Linked DNA regions of Homo sapiens. The protein of the gene in region 2 interacts with the protein of the main gene of each other region in a biochemical or structural test. Each region holds a gene or a part of one and is shown on either strand. Other genes may lie near its edges.

The links. Proteins that work in one complex are often made in the same cells at the same time.
Region 1: of the proteins of IKBKB (region 2) and RELA, one has a biochemical effect on the other in vitro, tested with the Homo sapiens proteins (4 studies listed by BioGRID and IntAct).

What each region holds. Positions count from the first base shown.
Region 1 is NC_000011.10:65,656,416-65,659,972, forward strand, and holds part of RELA (transcription factor p65), read right to left. Parts: intron 3,383-3,557; coding exon 3,251-3,382; intron 2,408-3,250; coding exon 2,303-2,407; intron 2,085-2,302; coding exon 1,872-2,084; intron 1-1,871. UniProt on the Homo sapiens protein: NF-kappa-B is a pleiotropic transcription factor present in almost all cell types and is the endpoint of a series of signal transduction events that are initiated by a vast array of stimuli related to many biological processes such as inflammation, immunity, differentiation, cell growth, tumorigenesis and apoptosis.
Region 2 is NC_000008.11:42,316,153-42,319,801, reverse strand, and holds part of IKBKB (inhibitor of nuclear factor kappa-B kinase subunit beta), read right to left. Parts: intron 3,593-3,649; coding exon 3,463-3,592; intron 3,093-3,462; coding exon 2,898-3,092; intron 2,146-2,897; coding exon 2,031-2,145; intron 1,251-2,030; coding exon 1,127-1,250; intron 533-1,126; coding exon 381-532; intron 218-380; coding exon 156-217; intron 1-155.

The DNA of each region.
Region 1 (3,557 bases), on a different chromosome or scaffold from region 2:
TCAGTAGCTCCAAAGCACTTCAATTCCATCAATTCAAAGACAACCTCATCATCCCTCAAAAACTAGGTTCTTTCTCCTGCATTCCCTGACCATCCGCCATCTGCCCTGTCACCAAAGCTAGAAACCTTGGAATGATTATCTTCTTTTCTCTCACTCCCCGCCAGTAACTTGACATATATTTATCAAGCACCTACTATGTGCCAGCCTCCCTTCTAGACACTGGGGATGTGGCCGTGAGTATGCACACAAGGTGTCTGCTCCCAAAAAGTTGGCATCCTAGTGAAAAAGTGAGAGGGACACAATCATATATACAAACCAGAAAATCTCGGCCAGGCGTGGTGGCTCACGCCTGTAATCCCAGCACTTTGGGAGGTCGAGGCGGGTGGATCACGAGGTCAAGAGATCGAGACCACCCTGGCCAACATGGTGAAAACCCCGTCTCTACTAAAAATACAAAAAATTAGCCGGATGTGGTGGCGGGCGCCTGTAGTCCCAGCTACTCGGGAGGCTGAGGCAGGGAGAATCACTTGAACCCGGGAGGTGGAGGTTGCAGTGAGCCGAGATTGCACCACTGCACTCCAGCCTGGGCGACAAGAGTGAGACTCTGTCTCAAACAAACAAACAAAACCAAACCAGAAAATCTCAAGTGACGGTGGTCCAGGGACGATATGGTGATGTAACAATACTGGAAGTGAGGTCAGGACAGTCTAAATGTAGAGGGAAGGGCTAATTTAGAGGTCAGGGAAGGACTGGCATGAGCCACTTGCATTAAAACCTTGGGCATTCCAAGCAGAGGCAACAGCTAGACACAGGTCCTGAGGTGAGACTGAGCTTGGTCTGTAAGACGCAAAACGGCTGCAGGGCTGAAGGGTAACTGAGGACAGTGGTGGAGATGTGATCTTGCTCTGCTATTCCTTCTGTAAGGTTTGTGCCGCATCTTCTCTTCCTGGACTACAGCAACATTTCCAGAATGGCCTCCCTGCTTTGAGTCTGTCTGTCTCTGATCTTCTACACGTGGCCTCCTGAGTCAACTTCCAAATCTGCTCCTGTCACCTCTCTGCTTAGAGGCCTTCAGCTTAACCAGGCCCTCCAATCTCTGAGCCTGCTCACTGCCCAACATCAGCTCAAACCACGAAGGTGGCCCTGAATAGGCCGTGCAGTTGCCAACACCCCTTCCCTTCCAGGTGCTGGGCCACCTGCCTGGAGAACACACTTCTGTGTCTTTCTCCAGCTTCAATGCCACCTTCTCCATGCAGCTGTCTCCAGCTCCCCGGAGGCCACTGTGCCCCCGTGCTTCTCTGCGCACACCTCCATTTCACATGTCATTCCGTGACTTAAGGATCTGTTTTGCACATTTGTCTTCCTCAAGTGACTGAGACTCTGAAGGGCAGGGAGCATGTCTTACTCATTTTTTGTATTCACAATACCTGGCACAGGCCCTGGTACCAAGTGGACACTCAAACCTCGACCAAAATGTGGCTGGGCTGTATGGTAGTGACAAGACAACCAGTGTGGCAAAAGGATCCTGAAGCCAGATGGCCTGGGTTCCAACGCTGACTCTGCTAGACTCTGCTACTTACTAGCCACGTGAACCCAGGCAAGTTGGACACTATCTCCTACTTCAAAAGGGTCATGAGATTAAAATCAGGTAATCCAGTGAAGTGCCTGGAATAGGGGCAGATGTGTAGTACTAGCTCAATGTCTGAGGTATCATTATTATTAAATGAGGCAAGAAATGGATTCCAGTTTCTTGGATCCCAAGCTCTGACTCCAGCTTCTGGCCCTCAACCACAGCCCCAGACATGCAGTCTTGGCCTCTCTCTCACGGCACAGAGCCCAGCTGCCCTGATGCTGCCACCCCAGCTGTGTACCTGTATCTGGCAGGTACTGGAATTCCATGGGCTCACTGAGCTCCCGGTCGGAAGGCCGCCGCAGCTGCATGGAGACACGCACAGGAGCCTGCAGGCTGGGGTCTGCGTAGGGAGGGGTCCGGAACACAATGGCCACTTGTCGGTGCACATCAGCTTGCGAAAAGGAGCCTCGGGCCTCCCAGCCTGGTCCCGTGAAATACACCTCAATGTCCTCTGCAGGAGATGCGGTGGCAGTGTGGGTCAGTGTGTCTAACCCTCCATGGTCTCCCCCTCAACTTCTGATGCTTGTCTTCTGATACATCACCCTTCGGCCCACCTGAGGCCCCCGAGGCACAGGAGGAAGTATCCAAAGCCAGTTACCTGACACTCCACTTCTCTGCTCAGCTTCACCCCTTGCTCCCAAGAGCCCACCCCTGCCTCCTGATGTATACCTTTCTGCACCTTGTCACACAGTAGGAAGATCTCATCCCCACCGAGGCAGCTGCCAGAGTTTCGGTTCACTCGGCAGATCTTGAGCTCGGCAGTGTTGGGGGCACCTGAGGCAGTGAAAACAAGGGAGGATGACCTGAGCCACGAGAGGTCCCCAGGGTGGCCTGCAGGAGATGCAACTTCCCTGCCCAGCCCAGAGTCAAGGTTGCCCAGAGCTTGCCACCTACACCTTTGTAGCCAAAGTCAGACCTTCTTATTAGCTCCTCACCCCAACCGATTCAACAAGTATTTGCCTACTGTGCACTCAACACTGATCTAAGCAAGAATACGACCACACACAAAACCCAAACCTCTCTGCTCTCCCGGAGCTTATAGTCCAGTGGGTGCCAATCTGATCACACTCTTTCTCCACCTGACCAAAGCAATCTTTAAGGCCAGTCCATACCCACCTTGGCAATGAGCCCTTCCCTCCTGACCCCCAGTTTATCCTGGTTTCCCATCCTTGGGGCTCCAGATTCGTTTTATTTCCATTCATCCTGCTGGTTACTTAACTAAAGACTGCAGCTGATCAGTCAGCCCAATTCATCTGTGGGCTTCCATCACTGAATCATCATTCTCGAACACTATCTTGTTCCTGGGAGTTCATTTCCTAGAGTCATTATCGCAGTTGTGGGCACACCACCTTCTCATCACACAATACTGAAAATGCCCATCTCCCATCAGACTCTCTGCTAGACTTCCTGCCAGGCCAGAGCTACACCTCAAGGACAGCTCTGGGTCTTCTTTGCCCTCTCTCCCCAGCCAACAAAGAGCTGGGCAGAGAAGAGTAGACAAATACGCAAGATGATTGAATGAAGCCAGAGCGCCTCTTGCAGGCCACACTCACCCCAACCCCCTTCCTCCTATTCAGGCCCACCCTCTCCCCTTCCTGCGTCTCCCTCGCTACTCACGATTGTCAAAGATGGGATGAGAAAGGACAGGCGGCAGGCGGAGGGGCCTGCCTGATGGGTCCCGCACTGTCACCTGGAAGCAGAGCCGCACAGCATTCAGGTCGTAGTCCCCACGCTGCTCTTCTATAGGAACTGCCAAGAAAACAGGCGATCAGGAGAGCAGGGGAAGTGGGGATATAGGTGCTATCAGTGGGGGCAGGGAGCTCTGCGCTGGGAGGGCCGCTGGTGCGTGTGTGAAACACAAGTCCTAGAGGAGGCAGAACCCAGCACTGACTCCACTGTGGCCTGAATGTCATGTCCCCTCCTG
Region 2 (3,649 bases):
GGCCTCTTTTCAGCTGGTCCAGTTAAGCTCAAAGCATGGTGAGGAACACCTGATTTTTGACAGAGATCGACCCAGTGTTTGATGAGAAAGTGAAAAGTGGGAGCACAAAATCTCACCCCCTTGGTAAGTTCCGAAACCCAAAATGAGTCTCCTACCCGCCCACAGAGCTCCACAGCCTGCTCCATTTCCCTCCAGGCCAGCAGCAGTTTATCTGATGCTGAAAAAAAATTGAGAAGGAAAAACAAAACAAAACAAAATAAAAACACCACAAAACTGAAACAGAAATAAGCAACTCAATTATAATAGGACAAAAGAAACCTTAGAAAGAGAAAAAGAAAAAAAAATGGTGTCTTTAAACTCATTGCAAAGTGCACACTCACTGATCCCAAACTCGGTTTGCTCGCTGTACTTCTCCAGGTCAATCTGGATGCTGGTTTTGAAGAAATCCAACTTGGCCTTGAGCTGCTGAGACATGGAAGCCATGGAATTCTTCATTTTGGAGAGGCAGCTGTTGTTTCGGAGGAGATTCATCCTGCAGGGACCACAAGGAACAGTCTTGGAGCATCTCTGGGATCCAAATTCCATTTCCTGTACAATAACAAAACCCCCTCAAATGTCAAGGGAGGTCCCTGCTATAATTATTATCATCATCACTATTATTATAGCAGCCACTTATAACCCAAGGACAATTTCCTAGCCCTCAGCAATGCCTGAGGTTCTGCACTAAACTTGACATCAGGCAAAGGAAGACACAAAAGGCCAATAATGTTGGCAAACGAGTCACAATGAGGAAAGAGTCCGTAAGTCCCCAGCAGCACGGTCAGGGGAGTTTTGCTAATCCACATGGTAGTGAGCTCCTCTGGGTTCCCAAACCAGCCACAGCTTGGCCAGCCCAGCTTCAGTTCCACACTCCTCACCCTGTGCCAACCACACTCACCTCGCCAGGTCTAAAGGGGCCTCCGTCAGTCCAGCCCACCCAACCGCTTCCCGTCCATCCAAACCAGTGTCTTCCTTTTGTTGCTCATAACGGTTGCTTCTGGGTCCCTGCCTCAACCACCTCCCTGTGGCCAAAGCCACCAAGGAATTTTAAATAAATTAAGTTTAAAAAAAAAGCCTGGCACGCTACATGGCGGCTCGCTGTCCCTGCTGCAGCCGGTTGCAATCTTCCTTCAGGGTCTGGATGCTGTGCCAGACCTGGCCCCACACCTTCCTCAGCTGGAAGAAGGCGAGATTCCTCTTGGGCTCTTGAACTGGAGACAGAGACACAAGCAATTGTCAAAGAATAACCACAATAACTCTCCTACAATTAACCATATCCTGCCTTCGACACTACTGGCACTTTCACGTTTTGTACCTACTATAGGATCATGTAACTTTGGAGGGTGTTATGCCTGGTTACTGTCACATACATGTATTTGTACCAACAGCATGTACCAGTGGTCAATAAGTAGCTGTTGATTTGAAGGAACACTTTACGAACCATTGGACACATATGTATATAGGGCCATATATTTTCAACAGAATTTTTTTTTTTTTTTTGAGACAAGGTCTCGCTCTTGTCACCCAGGCTGGCATGCAGTGGGGGTGATCATGACTCACTGCAGCCTTGAACTCTCAGGCTCAAGTGATCCTTCTGCCTCAGCCTCCTGAATAGCTGGACTACAGGCATGCACCACCACATCTGGCTAATTTCTAAATTTTTAGTAGACTTGCGAGCTTACTATATTACCCAGGCTGGTCTTGAACTCCTGGGCTCAAGTGATCCTCCTGCCTCAGCCTCCCAAAGTGCTGGGATTACAGGTGTGAGCCACCACGCCCGTCCTAGGAGGTTGAAATTAACTAATGGTTTCCTGTACTCTCTCTTGCCTGGCTACTCCTTGCATGTCCTAAATAAGGAAGGCTGCCCTGAGGACTGGCGATATTAATTTCCTTTACGTGGCTCCCCCTTCCTTAGTCCAGTCTCCCTTCCCTGCCTTGTCCCACATATTATAACGGATTATTTAGAAAAACAAAACATAACAAATTCTTACGGATACAGCTGACACTTTCAGGTTGGGGCCGTGGGGAGATCTGAGTCTCATAGGTGATTTTACTGTTGTCAAAGAGAAAAACAAGATCCATGTCCAATGTGTGGCCCTCATTTAACTGCAAAGGGACAAGGACAAAATGAATCTTGTGGATCCAACCCTCTCTTTTCTAACTGATAATGAAGAAGTTCCACAGCTTTCCCCACTGTTCAGCAAGAGCATCATCTTCAGCCAGCAAGTAGGAAGCATCCATGAAGTGTTTAACGTTTCCAGCCACACTTACTGTCTGAACACACTCTTTATTTACAAACGTATTACATTCTATTTTACTCTCTGTCTTCCCTGGGAAGTTCAGAAATTCACTATATACTTCCCTATGCAATGATTATTTCTCATATGATAACTTTAGCTCCACAAGTCAGCTGAGAAGGTCTTTTTGAGCAGAGGTCATGTCTTACACAGCTATAGTTAACACAGGTGCCTAACCCAGTTCTGTACACAGAGGCCATCATAAATACTTTCAGTTGACTCAAGAAAGTGCAGCATCCTTTTTTTTTTTTTTTTTAGTACACTTGGAAGAGGGCCAAGCAGGCAACTTGAGAGATTCGAGTGTTATAGCATCATTTTTTGCAATAAAGGCAAGAGACCGGTCTTGGAGGGTTTGGAAGTAACAAGTCCAGCAAGGAGATTTGTGTTTCCTATCAGGCCACACAGAGGACACCATACTCCAACTTAAAAACCAGCCAGGTATCCGCACTGTGTGATTAACAGACTACATGACAAAGCAGAATTGAAATCTGAAAGTGTGTTGAGTTTCCCAGGAGGCACAGCCAAGGTAAACAGGATGGTGTGTACGAAGCCAGGGCTCACCTTGCCGTCTGAAATACACTGAGTGGCAGGCTTATCGGGGATCAACGCCAGGCCCGCTTCCTGCAGCAGCTCCTGGTCCTCCTCTGGGATGCCCGTGTCCTGTTGGATTCTGGCCTTCAAGCTCTGCAGACTCTCATCCTCTGTCACAGGGTAGGTGTGGATGGTGCCCGTGACCATGTTCAAGATATGAACCAGCTGCAACACAACCCAGATGTTACTGGAAAACCGATTTCTTCAAGGAAATGCCCATCTATTTGCCTAGGTCCTCTCTCTGCTACTCCCAACATTTCCCAACCACACAAAGCAAGGGCCTAGCTTGAGGGAGGGAGGTCATGTGCCATGTTTCGCATATTTGCATCTTTCATAATCCTGTCTGTGGCTATGACCTCATAGCCAATGTCAATTAGCACAACTGTCCTTTCTTTACTTATGCAGAAAGACTGATGCAGGAGCCTAAATTTCCTCACTAGGTCAGCTGGCCCCATCCCCTGCTCTGTCCTAAGAACTGCATGTTCCACTGGGGACCCCAGCTTTTGCCTCAGGGCTAACTTGGCTCCACACTCACCTTTAAGTTTAAGATGTCATCCAGGGCCTTGAAGCAGCCATTGGGCCCATACGTGGGATCCGTGCCCCTCTGTCGGGGGTGCCACATCAGCATCAGTTGCAGCCACTTCTCCAGTCGCTCAGCCAGGACACTGTGGAGAGGAGCATAGTGTGTGAGGAGACACTTCCAGCCAATGTTGGGCTACAGT